3 separate regions of the Homo sapiens genome follow, and all the other regions are linked to region 1. Evidence: fine-mapped expression QTL. A gene starts in region 1. Each other region holds a variant in brackets. All regions are shown on one strand. Distances are from middle to middle.

What was found. PIP is the estimated chance that this variant, and not a neighbour inherited with it, causes the effect.
Region 2: its variant is the best candidate, but not a certain one, in a credible set for the expression of GOLGB1 in rectum (CEDAR, PIP 0.73).
Region 3: its variant is the best candidate, but not a certain one, in a credible set for the expression of GOLGB1 in whole blood (INTERVAL, PIP 0.56).

What each region holds. Positions count from the first base shown.
Region 1 is chr3:121,745,860-121,754,051 of GRCh38, reverse strand. It overlaps GOLGB1 (golgin B1), which reads left to right and starts at 4,311. Exons shown (of 22, transcript NM_001366282.2): 1 at 4,311-4,420. RefSeq lists enhancers at 4,344-4,583, 4,604-4,653.
Region 2 is chr3:121,642,781-121,650,972 of GRCh38, reverse strand. It overlaps HCLS1 (hematopoietic cell-specific Lyn substrate 1), which reads left to right. Exons shown (of 14, transcript NM_005335.6): 4 at 3,525-3,654; 5 at 6,045-6,155; 6 at 7,992-8,046. Among named protein-coding and RNA genes, the nearest start is that of HCLS1, 14 kb to the left of the region's middle. The variant TCA/A (reference allele first, on the strand shown) is at 3,865.
Region 3 is chr3:121,665,167-121,673,358 of GRCh38, reverse strand. It overlaps GOLGB1 (golgin B1), which reads left to right. Exons shown (of 22, transcript NM_001366282.2): 18 at 4,004-4,147; 19 at 5,201-5,298; 20 at 5,749-5,883. Among named protein-coding and RNA genes, the nearest start is that of HCLS1, 8.4 kb to the right of the region's middle. The variant A/G (reference allele first, on the strand shown) is at 4,943.

The DNA of each region.
Region 1 (8,192 bases):
TTGAATTGCCTTTGCTCCATTCTCAAAGATCAGTTGTCTACATTTATGTGGATCTATTTTGGGGCTGTCCATTCTGTTCCATTGGTCTATTTGTCTATTCTTTAGCCAATACCATGCTGTCTTGTTTACTGTAGCTGTGTAGTAAGTCTTGAAGTTGGGTAACGTCAGTCCTCCAACTTTGTTCTTCTTGAATAGTCTGTGGATTATTCTGGGTCTTTTACTTTTTCATATAAAATTCAGAATTAATTTGTTGATATCCACAAAATAATGTGCTAAGATTTTGATTGAGATCTTATTGAATCTACAGATAAAGTTGGGAAGAATTGACATCGTAACAATACTGATGCTTTCTGGGAATATGGAATATTTCTCAATTTATTTAGATTTTAATTTTTTTAATCAGAGGTTTGCTAGTTTCCTTCACATAGAGCCTGTACATATTTTGTTAGATTTATGCCTAAGTATTTATTTCGTCTTTTTTTTTTGAGGCTAATGTAAATGGTATTGTGTTTTTAATTTCAAATTCCAATTGTTCTTTGCTGAGGAAAGCAATTGACCTTTTACCCTGTAGCCTCGTTAAAATTGCTTATTAATTCCAGGAGGTTTTTGTTTATTCTTAGATATTTTTTACATAAAAAATCATGCCATCTACAAAGACAGTTTTATTTATTACTTGCTAGTATGAATATCTTTTATTTCCCTTTATTGTCTTACATTAGGCAGGAGGTTTAGTATAATGTCACCTAGGAGTAGTGACAGGGGACATCCTTACCTTGTTCCTGATCTTAGAGGGAAAGCATCCAGTTTCTCACCATTAAGAATCTGCAATATTTTTCTATCAAGTTGAGTAAATATCCTTCGATTCCTAGTTTTCTGAGTTTTTTTTTTTAATCATGAATGGGTGTTGATTTTTCTTCTTCCCCCACCTTCCCTCTTCTTCTTTCCCCACCTTCTTTCCTCAGCTTCTTTTCCCTATCCCCACCTTCCCTCTCTTCTTCCCCCACCTTCCCTCTTCTTCTTCCCCTGCCATCCCTCTTCTTCTTTCCCCTTTCCCTACCATCCCTCTTCTTTCCCCTTTCCCCACCATCCCTCTTTTTCTTTCCCCACCTTCCGTCTTCCTTTCCCCTTTCTTTCCTCTCCTTCCTTCTTCTTTTTCCCCCCTCATCTCCCTTCCTCTTTCCCCACCATCCCTCTTCTTCTTTCCCCACCTTCCCTCTTCTTGTGAAAATATTTTTCTTCATTGGTTGATGTGATCATGTGATTGTATATTTTTGCATATAATTGATATGTCTCAAAGTTATATTTTTCAAGACAATTTCTTATTTCTCCAAGATTTTAAGATTTATTCATATAGAATTCTATGTTGGATATTTTATTTAACAAATATTTATTGAGTATATACTATGCTGAAGATACGTTAGGTATGGAAGATACATTAATAAATAAGGCTGCATGAAAGTTTTGGAATAAGTTTGCATTTGGTATAGAGGAAGGTAAGATGATGATGAGGAAAGAACTGAAAAAGGGGAGAGGGAATTGGGCAACAGTAAATCACAGAGAATGTGACATTTCTTGTCTTTCAACTTTTCCTCCCTGTACTTTCAATTAGGGAAATGATCACTCTCTAAGGGACACCTGAATGACTCCACACTTCTGTGATTTCTGCAGTCTCTAACTGCTCTGGAGCTTAGAGTCATATCCAAACCCCTTAGCATAAAATGGCACAATTTTATGACCTACTCTTTGCCTAACCATTCAGTCATATCACTTATGTCAAATTGCCCAAATGGTCCATGCACATGCTGCTCCATCTACCTCCACTATTCTGTACCCTCTTTTTTGCTGGGGCAACCCCTAATTATCTTTTATTATCTTGATCACCCTCTCAGAGCCTAAATTGCTTCCATTAAGTTGCATTCTAAATTATTTCCAGTCCTTCAGTGAACTTAGAAATAATATGTTTTGCTCTTTAACTTCTCCACCTCATTTTCTTCCTTCACACCCCTAGTGTTCACTATAATTCTCACCATACTGTGCTCACCCAATAATAGAAGGTAGAGCTATAAGAAGACCTACTAGACAGAAAAAATTCTAATCTCGTCTCCCATAAGAAACTTTCATTCTGTTAAAACTGAAAGGTAAATTCTAAGGTCGAATGTGGAAATAAGTATGTAGAAAGGTAAATTTTGTGTAAGGGAGTACAATAGGACTCTCAGTGATGGCTTCTATTTTCTCTAAGATAGAAGCAAGTTCATCTGCTAGGAGTGTGAAGTGTAGACACGGGGTTGGGACTTAAAGAGGATGTTAAAGGTTTGAATAATTGTGGCAAATAGGAGAGGAAGCTGAAGACAAGAAGGATTTGGGAGTGTGCTGAAGATGGAGTTCAGCTGGAAACTGAATGTGCAGTGGTCAGGACATTGATGTCACTGATGACATTGTCCTGATGTCTCCTGCAGCATTTTGCTCCCCAAAGGTAGAAGTAGAGACCAATGGTTGGACTGATGCAGGTTTAGGACTTTGCTGGGTGGATACAATCAGGGATATAAGAATATGATGTATTCATTAAGTACTGCAGCATTCAAATTCTGTCTCTGCCCCTCACCATGTGACCTTGTGCAAATTATTTAACCTTCTGAAGTCTTATTGTCTCACATTTAAGATAAGGATAATCATATATACTTTATTAATTTAACAGATATTGAGTGCCCTCCTCTATACTTTTCTGGGACCTGGAGATAAAGCTGAGATCAAAATTACTACCTTCCTGGAGCTTATAATCTAATGAGAAGAGAGATACCAGATAAATGAAATATATAGTACTTTAGATGGCAAAATGCTTAGGGGAAAAAGAAGCAAAGAAGAAGTATATAGTGCATGCAGGAAATTGCAATTTTATTTATGTTTGTATTGATACATATTTGTACATATTTATGGGGTGTGGTAGTTTGATATATGCATACAATGTGTAATGATCAAATCAGGGTGTTTAGGATATCTATCACCTCAAACATTTATCATTTTTGTGTTTGGAACATTTCTAATCTCCTAGTTATTTTGAAATATATAACATATTGTTAACTATAGTCACCCTACTGTGCTATCAAACACTTGAACTTATTCCTTCTATCTACGTTTGTACCCATTAACCAATCTCTTCCCTCCCTCCCCCAACTCCACCTTCCCAGCCTCTGGTACTTATCTCTACTCCATGAGATCAACTTTTTAAGCTCCCACATGAGTGAGACCATGGGATATTTGTCTTTCTGTGCCAGACTTATTTCACTTAGAATAATGACCTCCAGTTCCGTAAGATGGGCAGCCAGGAAAGGCCTTACTTAGCTGATGTTTGAATTGTGAAGTTATGTAATCATTAAGATGAGTATACATACAATGGGCCAGCTGAGTGCACAGCAAGATTCAATAAATTCAAACTAACATTACTCTTATTGCCAAGAGAGTGCCTGAAATGACAGCTCATTGGAAACTGGCTACTTTCCTTCCCTTTCCTTAGGGGTTTAAGGAAAGCATGAGTGATTTCAGTCTTTTGCTGGAGCTCCTCACTGACACTCATTGCAGAGCCTGAGCCCTCAACTCTCAATCTTTGCTTAGGTCCTGGCTTAGGCTCCACTTTGTAAGAGGCACCTTCCTAGTATTCACTACTCTCTCTCTCACAATCATGTCCTTACAGACATTGCTGATCCTCTTTCATACTGACACCGGGTTCTAGTCCGAGTTCCATCACTAAGTCGCTGTTTGACTTTGGGCAAGTTACTTCTGTGGTTAATTATTTTTCATCAACAAAATCAAAAGGTGAAACTAGACGAACAACTAAGAGGCTCCAGTATTTTTTCAATCTAAGAGTCCCATATCCCCCACTCCCTTCTCACAGCTCATTCAACAATCCTAATGGCAGCGGGTGCCCGCAGTCTCAAGTCTCTGCCGAAGCCCAAGCCGCTGTCTCGGTCAGTCACAACCGACGAAGAGGAGGAATTGGAGGAAGCCAGCATAACCACTTCACACTGAGAACATCTGACCTTTCCCAGAACGCCCGCCCACTCGACACTTCCTGTCCCTCCCCAGATCTTGTTCCGGGGCACCTACTCGCGTCTAATCACTCCCCTCATTCACTCTTTAGGGTCCATTGGCTGTTTCTTTGAGGAAGCGGAGCATCTTCTGTCGTTGATTGGTTTCCGTCATTGTTGATAGGTTGGTAACAAACAAGGTGTGCCTGGTCTCCCTGGTAACGTCCTGCCGATAGTCCTGATTGGTCGGTGTCTTAATCCCATCTTCCGTCCCAACTGCTAGTGGCTGAGTCCCTGGCGGGGCGCGGCGGTGGAAGGTGTCGCGTACGGGCTTCCCGAGCTGACGTGGCTTGAATTGGGAGGGGGGCAGCTGGAGCCTCAGGCGGCAGCGCTTCTAGGTGAGTAGGGGACGCTACCCAACTCTTCCCTCTGCGAGTCCAATAACGGTCACCCCCGCCAGAGGGGCCGCGGGAGCTGCCCAAGCAGCTACACCGGAGTCCCCTCCTCGCCCCGCCTCTCCCGGATTCAGTCCTGGATCCGGCCCTTCACCCGCCTCCTTCACCTACCAGGCCTAGTTCTAGTAGCCCACAAGCCTCGGCCTCTCCGGTGGGCCTTCGGGGTCACCCTGCGCAGACTTGGACCACTTGCTCACGGTCTGTCCCCTCCCCGGTACGTTTCTCCTCTGGGAGCGACGGGGAAAAGCGCCTAGGTCAGTCCTGTCCGCACGGCCTTGTTCCTGGAGCGGCCTGCCTAAGTCGGCCTCCGTACGCAGCCGCTGACGTCGGAAAGAACCTGCTGGGCCCCTGTGCTCAGGCCCTAAACAAACTTGGTGTCCCGAAGGGGAGGCGCGACCAAAAGAAATCAAAGGTCTTTAGGGCGGAGATCACAGAATCATTGGAGATATTAATGCAAACGGAGGCCTGTCCAATAATCCTGCTAATGCTAATGGGTTACTGGAAAGATGAGAAGAGAGGAAAGATCCCAACGATCCCGTCAACACGAAAATCCCAGGAATCAGAGGTGGGCAGGCTGTTAGAGAAAAAGGAACCTCTAAGAGAGTTCTCGAGGAAAAATAACTTGGTTTGATGGTGTGGAGTATGTTTAATCTGCACAACCGGAATGTGAAAGGGAGGGTGAGTCCTTTGAGGAATGAGGAATATATTTGTCTGACTTATTTAAAGAGCTCCAGTTGGTCTATGGGGAGCGGACAGTTTGAGAGTGGGACAGGGATATTTACAATCATGGGTAAGTACTTTCACTTTTGGAGATAGTTGGAAGCTGTCTGAGCATTTAAAGGACCTTTTTACAGTTCTGTGCAAGATGCAAGCAAGTGGAGGGCTCTTTACATAAGGGCCAGAGGCCTTTCCAAAAGCGTGAATTGATAAGATTTAGATGGTCAGAATGGTTATGAAGGGGCAAACTCAGGAAATATCCTATTGGAAAAATGGCAGGATTTGGTTTTGGAATAGATGCAGGAAAAAGTTGAAGAGTACTCAAAAGTTGCAGGCATTGTACATTAACTGCTTCATAGCTTTTACTTCTCATCCCTTGACCACAGAATGACCATTTAATGTTTTTCTTTTCACTGCATCAATATTTTTTACTACCTCAGCAGCTTCCAAACCTTTTAATTGCACTCCCTATCAGTAAAACATTTTTGAGCATGCATCTCCCCAAATGTTGTGTGTTTAATTATTTATAGTGTATGACTACCACTGTAAATATGTTGTGTATAATATGAAATATGCAAAAGTATAAACGTAAAAGAATGAAGTTTTTAAAAAGCCTTGTCCACACCTTGGGACCTCCCAACCCAATTTGACAATCACGTAAAGATACTTCCTTGTTTTTCAAGAAGGTCGTTGGCATTTCTGGCATCCAGACTCTGGGATGCAGCCTTTCTTAAACATGATCTTTAGAAGATTTTTTTCAACCTTCTGCTTGAGTTTTATAGGCCCCCTTTCTTTTTCTCCCTTTGATTAATGGATTAATTAAAGGGATGTTGACTTTATCCTTGTTTATAAAATAAATCATTCATTAATTTCTCTAGGTTAATTACTATTAGGAATACCACTGATCATTACATACCAGTCTGTGGTTAGAAACCATTATGTAAAAGGAGACTAAGCTCTATATTGCTGTATTTTTAATTAAGCTATTTTAAAATCAGCTATATGCTTTTGATAAAAGGAAATTTAATACAGAAGGATACAATGTAAAAAAAGTCTTTTTCTTTTCTATCTACTGATCTACCCATCTCCATTCCCCACTTCCCAGAAGTAAGCACTGTAAATAATTTCTTGGTTATATTTAAGAAACTTTCTGATCATAATAAAGCACATGATAATATATACCCCCTTCTGTCTTTCCCACAAGTGGAATCCTAATACACATGCTTTTGCCATTTAGTACTGTATATTAGGCACTTTCAATATCCATGGGTATAAAACTACCTCATCCTTTCCATGGCTACACAGCAGTCCTTTGTAAAAATATAAAAATAGTATTTAGCCTGTCCCCATTGATGGACATTTAGATTTTCAGTCATTAGCCATCAAAACACTGCTGTAGTGTTTTGTTATATAACATCCATGTGTATATATGTATATATATACATATATATACGTATATATGTATATATATACGTATATAGACATATACGTATATATACGTATATACACATATATATACATATATACGTATATACACATATATACATATATACATATATACACATATATATACATATATACATATATACATATATATATACACACATGGATTTTTGTTTTGTTATGTAACATCCATACATAACATGTTTTGTTATGTAACATCCATATATATATATATATATATATATATATATATATATATATATAACATCCATGTATATATATCTTAGGGCCCTTGTGTGAACCTGTCTGTGGTATAAACAATATGGAATTATTTGGGGCCATACTAATATGAATCATTTTAGTTTACTTACTGCTTTAAAAAAAAGTACTTACCTAACTATTAACATAGTGCCTTTATCCCTTCATTCTGTTTTCAACCCGAGTAAAGAATATTGGATAATGAGATTATTCAGAAAATAAAATATTTTCTGTGTATCTTCACCCACCAAGAAGCTTTGTCGAACTATGTGACTGGGGAAATTACTTAACATCCCTCTGCCTTAGTTTACTCACCTTAAAACTGGGAATATTGACGGTACTCCCTCTTGCGGTTGTTTTAAGAATAAAGTGAGTTAGGCCGGGCGCAGTGGCTCATGCCTGTAATCCCAGCACTTTGGGAGGCCAAGGCGAGTGGATCACTTGGAGTCAGGAGTTTGAGACCAGCCTGGCCAACATGGTGAAACCCCTGTCTCTACTAAAAATACCAAAAATTAGCCAGTCGTGGCAGCGGGTACCAGTAATCCCAGCTACTGGGGAGGCTCAGGCAGGAGAATCGCTTGAACCCAGGAGGCAGAGATTGTAGTGAGATCGCGCCACTGCACTCCATCCTGGGCGACAATAGTGAAACTCCGTCTCAAAATAAATAACATTAAATAAATAAATAAATAAATAAATAAATAAAGTGAGTTAAATAACGAAAAGTAAGTTATGTGTAAAGATATTGGAGCAGTGTTTGGCAGGTCACGCTGTGTATGTATGTTATAGCTACCACTTACAAATTCATTTAATTAAAATAGTGGCTTCTGCATCATGAAAAATAGTTGTTCATTTTCTAATTGTAAAATTATGTCATAATATCGAATGTGTTATTTCCAGCTATACAGCACTACCCATTAGCCCCTCAACTTGGTTGAAAATCACTTTGAGATTTAAGGAATTAAGGACAGCTACTGAGGCTTAACTAAATAAGCATGAAATAAGTTTGAGGAGTCACCTCAACTGAAACCTAACCACCTTCTCTGTGTTTCTGTGGGAAAATGTGATTTAAATTCCAAAGTAGATGGCATATATGCATATATACACAGGCATGCACTCACTGTCTTCAGTTATTTTGCTTATTTTCCTGTGCATATTGTTCTGTTTTCGGTGGCTAGGGACATGCTTTATAATTCTTTTTATATTTTTATAGTTCCTAGCATAATGCTGAACACCAGGTGGTTGTTATAAGAATAATCATTGATAACAGTGAAGACTTGGAGAAAATAAAACTTACTTA
Region 2 (8,192 bases), 100 kb after region 1:
GTAGAGACGGGGTTTCACCATAGTGGCTAGGCTGGTCTTGAGCTCCTGACCTTGTGATCCACCCGCCTTGACCTCCCAAAGTGCTGAGATTACAGGCGTGAGCCACCACACCTGGCCACTTTTTCATTTTATTAATGGCATCTTTTTAAGAGCAAAAGATCTTAATCCTGATGATGTCTAATTTATTGAAAAAAAATTTATGGGGCTAATGCTTTATGTGTCTAAGAAATATTTACCTACCCCAAAGTTGTGAAGACTTTCTTTGATGTTTTGTCCTAAAGGACTGACAGTTTTAGCTTTTACATTTAAGTCTATGACCCATTTCAAGTAGACTTTTCTGTGCAGTGTGAGGTCAAGATTGAGGTTCATTTTTCTCCATGTGATTATTTAGTTGTTCAACAATATTAAAAGAGTATTCTGTTCCCATTGACTTACCTGGCATCTTTGACCACATACATGTGGGTCTATTTCTGGACTCTATTCTGTTCTGTTGATCTATTTTCTACCCTGACAGCATACCATACTGCACTGATTATTGTAGCTTTATAAGTCAAGAAATTATGTAGTCCTCAACTTTGCTCTCCTTAAAAAAAAAAAAAGAAACAAAAGATTTTACTATTCCAGGACTTTACATTTTCACATAAATTTTATAATTCACTAGTCAATTCCTACAAGAATGCCTGTTCAGATTTTGATTGGGATTGCATTGAATCTATAGATCATTTTAGGGAGAACTGACATCTTAATGATATTGAGTTTTCCAATCCATGAACATGGGATATCTCTCCATTTATTTAGATCTTCTTTAATATTTTCAGAAATATTTTTTAGTGTTTAGGTCTTGCACATACTTTGTTAAGTTTATCCTAAAATGTTTCATGTTATTTCATGTATTTATATTTAACTTCCAGTTTCCAAATGTTTATGGCCAGTATGTAAAAATACAATTGATTTTGATATAATGACCTTGTATCCTGTGACCTAGCCAAATGCACAATGCTTTAGTAGCTTTTTTTGTGTGAATTCTTTAGGATTTTCTACATACATGATCAGGTCATCTGTGAATAAAAACCTTATATTCTGAGTCACTCACATTTGTGCTTTTAGTTTTGTAATAAAAAACAAACACAGATTGAGGAATGAGTCATCTTTGAGGTGCTACATTTTGCTTGGTTCACATAAACTGCATTGCTTTATCAATACAAAGTCTTTTAAAACTTAAATTGGATATCTGAGAGTTAATATGTCAAAAGTTTCTTAGGCACAACACAGCATATTGAATTGGAATTTTTTGTTTTCCTCTCTATCTCTTCTAGCTGTCCTCTATCTCCATACATAAAACATTTTTGTGTCCTCAGAGCCTAACAGTACCTCACACTTAAAAGTTGTTTAGTTAATAGTTATAAAATGAAGGAATGATGTGATTAAGACCTGTTTAGGCCAGGCGTGGTGGCTCACGCCTGTAATCCCAGCACTTTGGGAGGCCAAGGCAAGAGGATCACTTGAGGTCAGGAGTTTGAGACCAGCCTGGCCAACATGGTGAAACCCTGTCTCTACTAAAAATACAAAATCTAGCGGGGCATGACATGCATGCCTGTAATCCCAGCTACTCTGGAGGCTGAGGCAAGAGAATCACTTGAACCCGGGAGGCGGAGATTACAGTGAGCTGAGATCATACCACTGCACTCCAGCCTGGGCGACAGAGCAAGATTCTGTCTCAATAATAATAATAATAATAAAGACCTGTTTAGAATGACTTCCACTATAACCTAAAGAAGTCTGTTTTCTTTGGGCCTCAACAATTTCATTCAAATTATATCATTGGTATGATCCCCTGACTAGTTTTTCTGTTATCCTTTAGATGAATATTTCTGAGTATCATTTTCTAATCCCTTTTAAAAACTTGTTTTAACTATAATATAGTTATAACCCATTTAACAATTATTATATTCATTAAAAAATTGCAGATTTTTTCCATTTGAAAGTAAATTTTGGCCCCATTTTCTTGATCTTTCATCTGAATACTTCAGTTGGAAGATATTGGGCAGGCATTTACATGTCCTTGGTACTAGTAGCTTATGACACAGTGTTGGTGTTGAACTGACAACACAAGATCTCTGCTTTCAACGCTGCCAGAGAGTTTAGAGGAGGCATGGGAACAGGGGGTTCTTCCAGCACTTGGCTTAATTTCATCTGGTTCATAGCCAGCTTTCTAAAATTAACTGCGGCTAAAGCTGAGAAGGCTTTTTAAAAAGACCTTTGGTAGAATTATCCACTAAAGGCCACCAGATGGATCTATTCTTCCTTAAAAGAAGACAATTTCTGCTGTGAGACAGCCATTCTACGTATAACCAATGTGTCTGGTTGTCCTGCGCTGGTAAAGTCCCAGCTCACCATCTAACATCACTATCTTAATACCCTAAACCCTCATTGCTTGCTGCAGAAAGTCAAATTTCTTATTTAGGGTTCTCTTGCCCAAATGTTTCCAAGAATCCCCGGATCCTTATATGTGTCCAAATAACAGATCTGATTGTCACGTGGGGCTGAGCTATCACTTCATATCCTCAAGCCAAAGAGGTTGGCCAAGATGGCTTTCTGCCCTCTTAATTGTTGCAGTCACCTTCATGGTAAAGATGGAAGTGGGTGTGAAGTAAGAAAGATAATGCCTTTTTTGGTGGTACTTTCTCTTAGGGATAGAGGTGTCCCTTCAAATCAAGATAATTTGAGGCTTAAAGTGTTATAGCAATAACTGTGAGTGGATTTTCTTAGTTAGTTTTCATTAGTCCTTAGTTTTCTCAGGTATTATCAGCCTGGGGGGAAGGGGCAGAAGATCTTAATTCATGACCAAAAAGCATAAAAAATACCACTAATGTTTACATAAATTTCCCCAGTTCTGTGTTTTTATAAGCATTATATTTAATGACTTCCTAGTACACTAGTGAAAGGTAGTATTTCAATTTATTTAACTATTATCCAACCATTGGTCATATAGATTGTTTCTTAGTTATTGCTATTATATACGATGCTTCAATGAGTATCATTTAGACATTAAGGACATTAAGCTTTGCCATATTTAAAATCATTTCCCTGGTGTAGACTGCTAAAACTAGAATGTGTAGGTCCAATGGTATGTGAATATTTTTCTGCTTTTTGAGACACATCCTCTAATTGATAGAAAGCAGATCCATTCAGAAAAGAAAATAACTTTCCAGTTATCAGAATATAGGTACCATTGTCCTCTAATATTTAAGAACATGAAAAATGGGACTAAAGATCAGAAGGTTATTTTAGTGAGCAAATAACAGACTAGAGGAAATATTATTGGCCTATGGAGAGTTTAAATCAGGCTATGGTATGCAGGCCAGACTGATCTTTTACTTCCAGACCCATCACTAGTATATTTTGGGGGCCCAGGTTATTACTGAAAGTAAACAGGACAGACTTCAAGGCTTCCATTTTTCTGGGAAGATGGGTTTCTTGATCTCCCTAGGATAGATGAGCCTTGGTCATGTGGTTTCTTCCAGCATCCACCAGCTGAGGAACAAAGTATCAGAGGAGCATGATGTTCTCAGGAAGAAAGAGATGGAGTCAGGGCCCAAAGCATCCCATGGCTATGGAGGTCGGTTTGGAGTAGAAAGAGACCGAATGGACAAGGTAAGTTGAAAGGGAAAGATTTGCTTTAAAAAAATACAAGCCGGGTGCGGTGGCTCACGCCTGTAATCCCAGCACTTTGGAAGGCCAAGGTGGGTGGATCATGAGGTTAGGAGATCGAGACCATCCTGGCTAACACGGTGAAACCCCATCTCTACTAAAAATACAAAAAATTAGCCGTGCGTCGTGGTGGGTGCCTGTAGTCCCAGCTAC[TCA/A]GGAGGCTGAGGCAGGAGAATGGCGTGAACCTGGGAGGCAGAGCTTGCAGTGAGCCGAGATCATGCCACTGCACTCCAGCCTGGGAGACAGAGCGAGACTCTGTCTCAAAAAAAAAAAAAATAAATAAAATAAATAAATAATACATTAAAAAATTGATATATATACTTATATATTTTGTAAATATGTATAATTATATACTTATATATAATTATATACCTCTATAATAAGAGCCAACTATATATAAGTATATATAATTGACTCTATAATAAATAATTGGCTCTATAATAATTGGCTATAAAATAATTGGCTCTATAAGAGCCAATTATATGTAAGTATATAATTATATAAGTATATATTTATTATATATACTTATATATTTTATATATGTTATAAATATAATATAATGTATATTATATTTTATATATTATATATAAGTGTATATATATTATAAGTATATATAATATAATATATACTTATAATATATAATATATAATAAGTATATATATTAATATATATTATATATATTAATATATGTAATAAATATATATTAATATATATAATATATACTTATATACTTATATATAACAGATACTATATATAAGTATATATAATATATAATATATCTATATTATATATTATATATCATATATAATATATAATCTACATTATTAATACATTATATTACATATTATTACTATGTAATATATTACATAGTAATATATTACATAGTAATAATATGTAATATAATGTAATATATTATATACTATAATTAATATATAATATATATTATATTATATAAGTATATAAAATATAATACATAAAATATAATATATATTATATATTTTTATTTATAAATATATATAAAATATATATAAATATATAAAATATATAAAAATATAAATAATATATTTAATATTATATTATTATATATTAATTATAAGATATATTATATATATACTTATATATAGTATCTGTTATATATAAGTATATATTATATATAAGTATATAATTAATATATTATATATTAATACAAGTATATAATTAATATATTATATATTAATACATTATATATTATATACTTATATAATTATTTATAAATATATTTATAAATATATATTATTAATATATGTTACATAATTATAAGTAAATGTAAATATATAAATTTATATTATGTATATTTTAATATATTATAATTATATGATATAACATATTTATATTATAAATATATAGTTTATTCATAAATATATAGTATATAATATTTAAGTATATTTAAAAATTTTGCTAAAACACCCAGATACTTTTGTTCTAGATCAAAATATATATTTTTTGACTCATTCATTGGTTCATGAGTTAAAACTCATTCAAAAGTACAGTAGTCATTTGGTCTAAAATATAATGTCCACATATTATTTGTATCAAATTTTTCTGATCTCAACACATAAGATATACATGGCAGAAAATAAGAACCAAGATATTAGAACTGCTGGCCTGTTGTAGCCCCAACCACATTGTAACTCCTAGACCAAGAAGACAGGGAGCACAAGTGGAGAAGGAAAAAATATGTTTTAAAATTATTTGCTGCATTTAAATGTTTATGTATTATGTCTATGTTGCAACTTCTCTTTATTATTTTATTTACTGTGTATTTAGTGATTTTTTTTGTATACATGTCCTACATTACATGGTGTATAAAGCTCAGAGTTCACTTCTGAACTTTGATGGCCATACAGGAGCAAAGATCTAGAACAAAATCATTGGCTCTCCTAGTGAAATATTCCATCCCGGCTATGGCGTCCGGTCAGTCCCCTTGGTCTCTCCTCCACACTACCCCACACTACACTCTGTTCTGCTGCACAATGCTCTTGTTTCAGCTCTTTTTGTTTCTGGTTTAAACACTGCTCTGTCTACCTTGTCTCTATCCCCTGGTTCCCAGCCCATCCTATGGGAGTGTTCAGAATGAAGGATTCCTAATGGTATTAGAGAAGAACAGGGATGAGCAGGTCTCCAGAAAAAGTCATCTTGCTCTCCCATCGCGTATTCCTTGGCACCACTGTCAGAGGCTATAGATCTGACCCAGAATGGAATTTCTTACATGCCTACATCCCACTCCATATCTGTATTTATTTTTTTAAGGTCATTTTTATCTTTTCACTCACTCCATCCTTGATTTTTCTCAGAGTGCAGTGGGCCATGAGTATGTTGCCGAGGTGGAGAAGCACTCTTCTCAGACGGATGCTGCCAAAGGCTTTGGGGGCAAGTACGGAGTTGAGAGGGACAGGGCAGACAAGGTAAGTGACCACTCTCTCTCCCAACCACCCACCTCCAGTCCTGTGAAAATTGCCCACGATCACCCCTGGATGGAGGCACATGCTTCTTTGTTGAAAGACAGGACAGTGGATGCTGTGAGGACCTGACACCGTCACAGGGATACCTCCCTCAGCAAGTTCCTTGGTGCCAATGTTGGAAGCCACATGCTGAGCTGAAAGACAGTGATTCAAATAGGAGAAGACTCTCAAACTGTGTGTTTGAATGAATAATTCCTCAAGCCACTGGTTTTTATTATACTCATATGCATGAAGATAGAACAGAGAATCATCTAAGCTCTTCTTTTGGCTTAACATCAAAACCTTATAAATACTCATGCCGTTTAGGAAAACAGATTCATCAGTTTAAATATTATTGCCATAGCAGCAGATAATCAAGTTAAACAACTAATTAGGGTTACTATTTACAGAATTTAGCATCAATCTATGAAGTCCAGATATCTTTAAAGACTCCTTTGTACAAAACAAAACAAAATGTTGTTTTAAAGAGAAAAAAAAGTACCGTATGATTACAGCATCATATCGTTGACAGGAGAGTAAGATTGATAACTCATCGATGTTTTTAGTTCCACGCCTTATTAGGTCGGATTCTTTGAACTCATTTTTTATGGTGCAGAATGGTGTCTCCTGCCCTGCAGCTGCACACAGAGAGAGGACAGCTCCTTCACAGTTAGCTGAGATTTTTTCTTTGTTTTTACCAACAGTTGTTAATTAGGTGGACATGCATCCTTAAAGCTAAGGATTGGAAGCTAAGGCAGCTAAGTTCTAGAAAATTAATTGTTTGCATCATGGGGGGTAAAACCATGAAAAACAAAATCAGGAAAGTTTAAAACATACTGCAAAGCTAAGGGAAGATGTAGAAGGCAATAGTGAAATATGGAGCATGCAGTGTTCTAGAATCAGGATGGAATTCCCTGTTCCATCTTGGCACCACTCTTGCCTGCCTTTGCTTAATCACCGATTCTTACATCTTTTGCTCACAAGCCACAAATGGAATCACCCAGTCAGTGTGTCATGTAAATCAAGAAACAATACATGTTAATTAGTTCTTAATATGCAAAAACCCAGACTTGCTTAGATACCCATAGTTCCTGAGCCAGATGGAGAACAAAGCTCCAAAACTCTGCGGTAATGTTGGGTATCTGGGCAACATATCCAGTCCCAGAGCCAGCTAGGATCCAGACTCTCCTGGTTGCAGTTATCCCACCAAAATCCACATATTTGTGTTTCCATTATTGAGTAATGAAAGAGAAGAGGCACAGCATTATCAACTGGGAATAGGGTAATGTCTCTTCATGAGCAGAGTGCTTTATACTTTACAAGGCACTTTTCTAGGTATCACATTTCACTTTTGTGAGGATTCGTTAGGAAGAAAAGCGCTAAGTTAGTGAATGAAACTAAGTAGACACTTTACCTTGTCCCATTTAGTTCTCATGACATCCCAGATGAAGAGGGATCATTTCTCTCATTTTACAGTCGAGGTAGATAAGGCAGGCATGCCTCTCCTGATTTTATATTGAAAGAGACTGGGGCTTAGTAATATAAAGGAACGTGCTTAAACTTCAACAACTATAAATAGGGGATGTAGGGTTTGAACCTAAAACTGTCTGTGTCCAGGGCCTATGTTCATTGCTCTGTAGTATCCTGTGTCCATACCAGCCTGTTTCTACATTAAACACCTATACTCAGCCTGAAGCCCCTACAAACTACCTCTGGGGCTGGCTGGGAGTAAGGGGAGGTTAGGAAGAGGAAAACCTGTCAGCTCTGACTCTAACCAATTCTGTCTCCTCTTCTCTGTAGTCAGCAGTCGGCTTTGATTATAAAGGAGAAGTGGAGAAGCACACATCTCAGAAAGGCAAGGACACTGTACTTCACTCAGCCTCAGCAATCTGACCGGCAGGCTCTTCTGCTAAGACTTTATCTTCCAGCAGTTGTCATCAGCTTTTTAACTTCCATGACCCAGCGCACCACTATTTTATTTACTTTTTGTTCATTTGTTTG
Region 3 (8,192 bases), 81 kb after region 1:
GGTGGCTTATGCCTGTAATCCCAGCACTTTGGGAAGCCAAGATGAGTGGATCACCTGAGGTCAGGAGTTCGAGACCATCCTGGCCAACATGGTGAAACCCCGTCTCTACTAAAAATACAAAAATTAGCTGGGCGTGATGGCGGGGGCCTGTAATCCCAGCTACTTGGGAGACTGAGGCAGAGAATTGCTTGAACCCGGGAGGTGGAAGTTACAGTGAGCCGAGATCGCGCCACTGCACTCCAGCCTGGGTGACAGAGCGAGACTCCGTCTCAAAAAAAAAAAAAACCAAAAAACAAAAAAACACACAAAACAAAGCTGGAAGCATCACACTACCTGTTTAATGAGCATGATACTGGCATAAAAACAGACACACAGACCACCAATGAAACAATTAGAAACCCAGGTATAAAGCCAGGCATTTAGGGGCAACTTGTCTTTGACAAAGGCACCAAGAACATATGATGGAGAAAGGACAATCTCTCTAATAAATGGTGCTGGGAAAACTGGATATCTATATGCAGAAAAATAAAACTAGACTCCTATCTCTCATCATACAAAAATCAAATCAAAATGGATTAAAGACTTAATTCTAAGATCTGAAACTATGAAACTACTAGAGCAAAACTTGTGGAAATGCTTCAGGACATGGATCTAGCCAAGGCTTTTTTTGTGTAAGTCCTGAAGAGTACAGGCAACCAAGGCAAAAATAGACAAATGGGATTACAGCAAGTAAAAGGCTTCTGTTCAGCAAAGGAAGCAATCAACAGAGTGAAGAGACAATCCACAGAATGAGAGAAAACATTTGCAAACTACCCATCTAACAAGGGATTAATAACCAGAATATATAAGGGACTCAAACAATTAAATAGCAGGAAAACAAATAACTCAACTTAAAAGTGGGCAAAAGATCTGAATAGACGTTTCTCAAAAGAAGACATACAAATGGCCAACAGATATAAAAAAAAATACTCAGCATCCCTAAACATCAGAGAATTGTAAATCAAAGCTATAGTGAGATGTCATCTCACCTTTGCTGAAATAGCTTTTATCAAAAAGACAGGTAGTAACAGATTCTGGCAAGGATGCAGAGAAAGGGGGAACTCCCATACACTGTTAGCAATGTAAGTTAGTACAGCCACTGTGGAGAACAGTATGGAGGTATCTCAAAAAGCTAAAAATAGAACTACCATATGATCCAGCAACCCACGTATCTACAAGAAAGAAAATCAATATATCAAAAAGACATCTGTACTCCCATGTTTATTGGAGCACTGTTCATAAAAAACAAAACATAGAATCAATGTAAGTACCCGTCAACAGATGAATAGATTAAGAATGTGGTATATGTACACAAGGGAATATTATTCAGCTTTTAGAGGTATGAAATTCTGTCATTTGTGGCAACATAGATGGAACTGGAGGACATTATGTTAAGTGAAATAAGCCAAGAACAGAAAGACAAATATCACATTCTCACTCGTGTGGGAGCAAAAAAAAAAAAGTGAATCTCATGAAGATAGAGAGTGCATTGGTAGTTACTAAAGGCTGGGAAGGATAAAGGAGAGGAGGGAATGAAGAGAAGTTGATTAATGGGTGCAAATACATGGTTTGATAGAAGAAATAAGACCTAGTGTTAGGTAAATCAATAGGTGATTATAGTTTACCACAATCTATTGTATATTTCAAAATAGCTAGAAGAGAAGAATTTAAATGCTTCTAGCGTAAAGGAAAGACAAATACTTAAGGTGATGGATATTCCAGATACACTGATTTGATCTTTACAAATTATATGAATATATTACATTATAGCATGTATCCTGAAACTATGTATATCTATTATACATGAATTAAAAAATTTTTTAAGTATCTGGGAGGTTGTGTATAAGTTATATGCAAATACCCTGCCATTATATATAAGGAATTTGAGCGTCCTCGAATTTTGGTATACTGGGAGTTGGGGGTCCAGGGGTGGTTCTGAAACCAATACCCCATAGATAACAAGGGATGACTGCATTTCTACCAGCTGTTTGGATGTTAGTATGTAATGTAAGAATGTGCTAGAAACTTAAAAACATGAGATGGATGATTAGTGACATAATGTAGTCTAAATTGTTCCCTCCTATTTTGTTTTTACAGGTATAGATACAGTGAAATATAGTAGCTTATAAGCTAGAGGAGAGGTCAGCAAACTTTTCCTTCAGGCTCAGACAATATTTTAGGTTTGTTGACTGTATGGTCTTTGTTAACAACTACTCATCTTTGCAGTTGTAACACAAACGCAGCCATAGACAATATAGAATCAATTGGGCTGGTTGTGTTCCAGTAAAACCTTATTTATGATAAAAGGGCAGCAGGCCCTGGATCATAGTTTGCCAACCCCTAAACTAGAAGGATCTATGTTTTTGTTTTTGGTATGGTTTGGACTGTTCATTGTGGCCAGGAAAATTAACTTCCTCTTAGGTTAAGGGAAGAACATGTTGTGCCCTGTCTCAGAATCCAATAGTTGTCATTGTACCCAGTTAACTGTCTTCAAATTAGTATCACTTCCCAAATATTTATATCCTTTCCTAACTATTCCCACCTCCTCCCACACCCCCCCCCCCAAAAGAAAACCCTATGATTTTCTTAGCTTTCCTTGCTAGACTATCAGACTGGACACCATCAGATAGTAGATAGAGCTCTAGACTTGGAATCAAGAACCACACTTGAGTCCTGGTTTGACATCTACTAGCCATTTGTAAACAAGGACAGAAATCCTTTCTCTACCTCTCTCAAATAAGATGATACTGGTGAAAGTACTTTGTAAGCTAACATTGCTCTTCAGAATGACAAACACAAAAAACAACCCTACATCTGAAGAGCAATTTTCAGCTAACAGAGCACTTTTACAAGTATGTATGGATTATCTTGTTCTAATTTTCTATTTGCATCAAATGCCCTTCCTCACAGTTGTCTCTAGAAAACTGTCGTCTCTCCTCTAAAACATTGTTTGTTTCAACTTTTTTTCACAAAAACTTACAAAAAAGAATCATCAAGAAAAAATTGAACATGCAACTGGTATACTGGGTTCCTCTCATATAATGTACATGGTCCTAGAGTAGATAACTTGGAGAGACATCTCCATGGTTATTAATGTACCTGGAGGCTAATCACAGCTAAAACTTAAAACTTGACAGCCTGCAAGTGAGAGAATTATAGTTCCAGAGTACCAAATTCAAATCAATGGGTAGAAGCTACAATAGGTAAATTTTTCATTCAATATAAAAATGAATTTTCAGTTTTTTAAATGGTTTGGGTTGCTTTGTCAGGCAGTGGGCGCCCTGACACTGAACATGTTCAAGGGAAGACTGAACGATGACCTGTTAGTCATGCAGTAGAGGAGAGTCCTGCTTTAAGGGACTGAAATGTTTCTACCTGGGAGAATCTATGCTCTCAACAGTTTCTGACATATACATATACATGTTGGGATTTATTCTGTTTCTCCCTTCTACCACATATTATAATTTTTTATTCTATTCTCTCAGTAACTTATAACTCTTTATGGCATTGAGGAATCTGCCTAGGAATATTATTGCACAGATTTTGGGGTGACAGCTCTCTCCAGCCATATTGAGTTCTGGAGATTATAGTCATTTGTTAGTACCATGAACTTTGACCCTGAGGTACTGCCTTCTCCCTCTTATGTACCCAGAATAGCCTATGTAATTAGATTGCTTATGGACTTCTGCTTCATGGTTTTTCAGTTAATGTACTGGGCACCATTTAAAAAAACAAAACAGAACAAAACAAAAAAACCTTTCTGCTACTCCTCCAGAATTGTTTTCTGTCTTGGTCAAAAAAAAATTATGCTTTTTCCAACTTTGAAGGCACACAAAGTGCTATTGTTGCTGTTGCTGAAACAAAGGTCTTCCATAGGAAAATTAGATCCTGAAAACTCAGAACATTTCACCTCAGCACTGCTTACAGTACTGCAGGATGATGCTTATCCTCGCCTCTGTTTCAGTTCTCTCAGCTACTGGAAGAGAAAAACACCCTTTCCATTCAGCTCTGCGATACCAGTCAGAGTCTTCGTGAGAACCAGCAGCACTATGGTGACCTTTTAAATCACTGTGCAGTCTTGGAGAAGCAGGTTCAAGAGCTGCAGGCGGTGAGTAAAGAGAAGGTGAGAGACTGGGAGAAGTGTGATGAAATTTAGTGCAAGTGGTGAAGCACTACAGAGCAGTATGGAAGAAGTTAATGTAATTAGGGGTCAGGGAAGAAAGTGGGAGAGAAGAAAGAGTTAATTGAGATGGGAATAAGGTCTGAGAAAAATTACAGTGAAGCAATTAGAAGAAAAAAGATCAGTGAGATGGTGGGAGAGAAATCAAAACATGAGTAGGAAACAGTGATGACTGAGACATTTGGTACTCTGAAACAGAGAAAGTGTTGATTTTGCTTTAAGTTATAAGAAAATTGTAGGAAACTTTGGATCTGAGAACAAAACAGGCAGCACTGTTGACAGCCAGGGAGAGGAGTACAGCATTGAAGTTGGAGGAGACTGAGAATTAGTATGGAGACGTATAGGATACGGAGGAGGAAAAGGGGGTTGGGAGGGGCTGGACAAGCAAGGGAAGGATCAAAGTGGCTTCTGGAAAAGCCATAAGCATCCACAGCAGACTTAACTTTTTTTTTTTTTTTTTTTTTTTTGAGACGGAGTCTCGCTCTGTCGCCCAGGCTGGAATGCAGTAGCACGATCTCGGCTCACTGCAACCTCCACCTCCTGGGTTCAAGCAATTCTCTGCCTCAGCCTCCCGAGTTGCTGGGATTACAGGCGCCTGCCACCACACCCGGCTAATTTTTTGTATTTTTAGTGGAGACAGGGTTTCACCATCTTGGCCAGGCTGGTCTTGAACTCCTGATCTTGTGATCCACCCACCTCGGCCTCCCAAAGTGCTGGGATTAC[A/G]GGCTTGAGCCACGGCGCCCGGCCCAGACTTAACTTTTAAGAGGAGAAATTCAAGAATGAGAATCTGGGAGAAAAATCTAATCAAGACAAGAGTTTTATGTAGGTGAGTAATCTGCTAGAGCAGAAGCTTCTCACTTCTAAATTTGGACTTGAGAATTATAAGCGGGGATAGTCCTCTGTAAACGAGCTCTCATTTTGCTCAAATACACTTTCTTAAGAGCTTTCATCACTGAATTACTAAGCTTATTCTTCTTCCAGGGGCCACTAAATATAGATGTTGCTCCAGGAGCTCCCCAGGAAAAGAATGGAGTTCACAGAAAGAGTGACCCTGAGGAACTAAGGGAACCGCAGCAAAGGTAGGGGAGTGGCTCTCTAAACCCTGGAGCATACACCAGAGTCCAGAAATTGGGCAGTAATCTAGATTTAACTGGAGTCCTTTATATGGATTTAATATGTCTTGTTATCTTATTAGCCTCACAGAAGTGATGTGAGGATCAAATAGTAACAATAATAACTAACATTTGTGTGTGAAAAGTTTGTAAAACAAAAAGAGCAACACCAACACACACACACCACTAACAACTACTCTATGATAGTAAAATGAAAGATAATCAGTTCCTGAAATTTCTTTAGGTATTTTCTGCAGCTTCATTTAATCCCTCTACAGCTTTGCTTTTAAAATATTGTGTTTAGACAAGCTTCTATGGATTTTCTTGCTTTACAACCTTATGAAGACTTTGAATCCCTTGTATTAGCAACTGTTTTCTGCATCTGATGATGCTTTTTGTTTTCCTCTCATCCTAAAGCTTTTCTGAAGCTCAGCAGCAGCTATGCAACACCAGACAGGAAGTGAATGAATTAAGGAAGCTGCTGGAAGAAGAACGAGACCAAAGAGTGGCTGCTGAGAATGCTCTCTCTGTGGCCGAGGAGCAGATCAGACGGTAAAGGCTGAAGGAGATAGCCTCTGTTCCCTTCCGATCCTTTCTGATCAAACTCATGTACATTTCCTGCCAGACTTAGGATTTCTTAAGATCTTTTTCTCATCTTGAGGTAGTTGCTGCAATGAGTTTACCAACATTGTGGTCACCCAAGAGAACACTGTACTTTTGGAGTATAAGAGAGTCAGTGTTTTCTAAAACAGTTGTTCTTAGAGAATAATAATGATATCTACCATTACTGAAAGATATTTTATTTCACCCTAACCATAACTATATGAGGTAGGTGTTGGGTTCTCTAGAGGACCAAATAAGTGACAACCTCATTTTCTACCTGAGATCTGAATCCATGGAAATCTTTTTTAAAAGATTAAAAGATTGAGAGATTAAAAGACTGCTTTATAAATGATGTTAAAAGAATGTAGCTTTTTATTTGTTGGCAAATGCACTTCCTAACCCTGAACTTCCCCTCCCAGTCACAGACAATGTTGGGCCAAGGTAGACCTCCTTCACAGAAAATCCTGCTCTTGCCAAACAAGAGTATTGGAATAACAGAGTGAACTGTGCTTCCTATGAGCAGTTTGCTCCAAGTGTAATTTGGAAGGGCAGAGCTACACATCCCTAGTTCCTTATTCTCATCAAAAGAATCACTATGCATGAGAGGATAGAGAGTTGCTACAAGTATTTTGCTGCTGGAAGTCCCTTTCCACGGAAAATATCGTTAAAAGCAGGCACTTTTATTATATTTTGGGAGAAAGCCACCTATGTATATGATCACTTTCCTCAGAGAATGACATTTCTGATATTAATGCTTTCTTGTAAAGTTTATGTGGCAGAGGTGACAGCCCCATTGAGCAGGTCTTACTTGAGATACCTTTCTTTCCAATCCAACATATTCACAACTTCTTAATTTTCATCACCTATTCAGGCCTTGATATGCAGCTTTGAGGGTGGGCCAGCTTTGCTTAATGCCTTGTGTGGTGTCTTGCCATCTCTGCCGAGCATTTTCAGGCCTGTGCCCTCATGACTGTTTCTCTTCTACTTGCTATTGAATTGTTTAGACCGGTGAAACCTGGCCAATGGGGAGGTTGATCTCCCTCTTGTGTAACTAACCTGTCCCAAACCAACTGAGACTGCATGTGTGGGATGATGACTCTTGAGCCTGTGGGCAAGCCGTATTAATTCAAGCCACAATTCCCTCTTTAGCTCTGATGCAGAATGGAAGTTGGGGTAGCTAATTAAGGGCTGCCTGCCTAGTCCAGGTACTGCCATTGTAATGTTAGAATCTCACATGTACTCTAAAGAGCAGGTGGAACTCAGTGGCCCTCCAGTTTAAAGGCAGCCAGTACCATCTTCCTCATCAATACCTACAGACTTCTCATCCTTCCTCAGCATAGCCTACATTGACAGACTGACCTCCATAGTAACAGACCATGCTGTTCCAGATCAAAGCTGCTTCTGAAAAGCTTATCACATGGAGGAATAGACACAGAAGGTGTATTTTTTAGTCAGCCTGGCTCTCAGGAGGGAAGCAGGAAAGAAGGAGCTAGGCTGTGCATGCTCAGTTCTCTTTCTAGACTCACAAATTGGATTAAGGTGTTTCTTCTCTCCCGGGGAAAAGAATGTGTCCTGCAGAGAGCCCAAGAATATTAAACTAATAGATATCCTTTCAGAAGGAGAAAACACAAAGAGTAGAGGCAAGAGTTTCATCCTCTCTTCCCTATTGAAAAAGTTCATCCCTATAGGCAAATGCTTGATCAAACGTGCTGTGTTACATGCAGCTCCTTTGTTTGTTTGACATAACCATTGAGTGAGTAATGGCAGCTTCTTCATTAAATGGAGAAGTTCCAGTATTAAATAAGCAAATCAGCAAAAACTGAGCCAGAAGGCAGTGGAGACTGCCAATTCAATTTAATTTTTTTTAGTTCAATTTAATTTTTAAAACCCCACAGAAATCTTCTTTGGATGCTTTTGCCTATTAGCCTTTAATAAAAGAAAAAAATGTAATGAGTTTCTCCAAGTCAGGTGTGGTGTGGTGGAAAAAAGAACGTGAGGCTTGAAAGACAAAGTTGGGTATTGAATTCTGGCTCTGCCGCTTACTGGCTGTGCCGCCATGGGCAAGTAATTTAACCTCTGTAAGCCTTAGCACTTTGAAGATAATAAGACCAACCTCAGAACCTGAGGATTAAATGTATGTAAAGCACCCAGCCTAGAGCCTGATACATAGTGAGTAGGCAGTCAATTCCTGATAGTTATTGTCACATTTTGCTGCTGCTGAAGGAAACGTATCTGCTGGTACCCCCCTTGCATGGGTT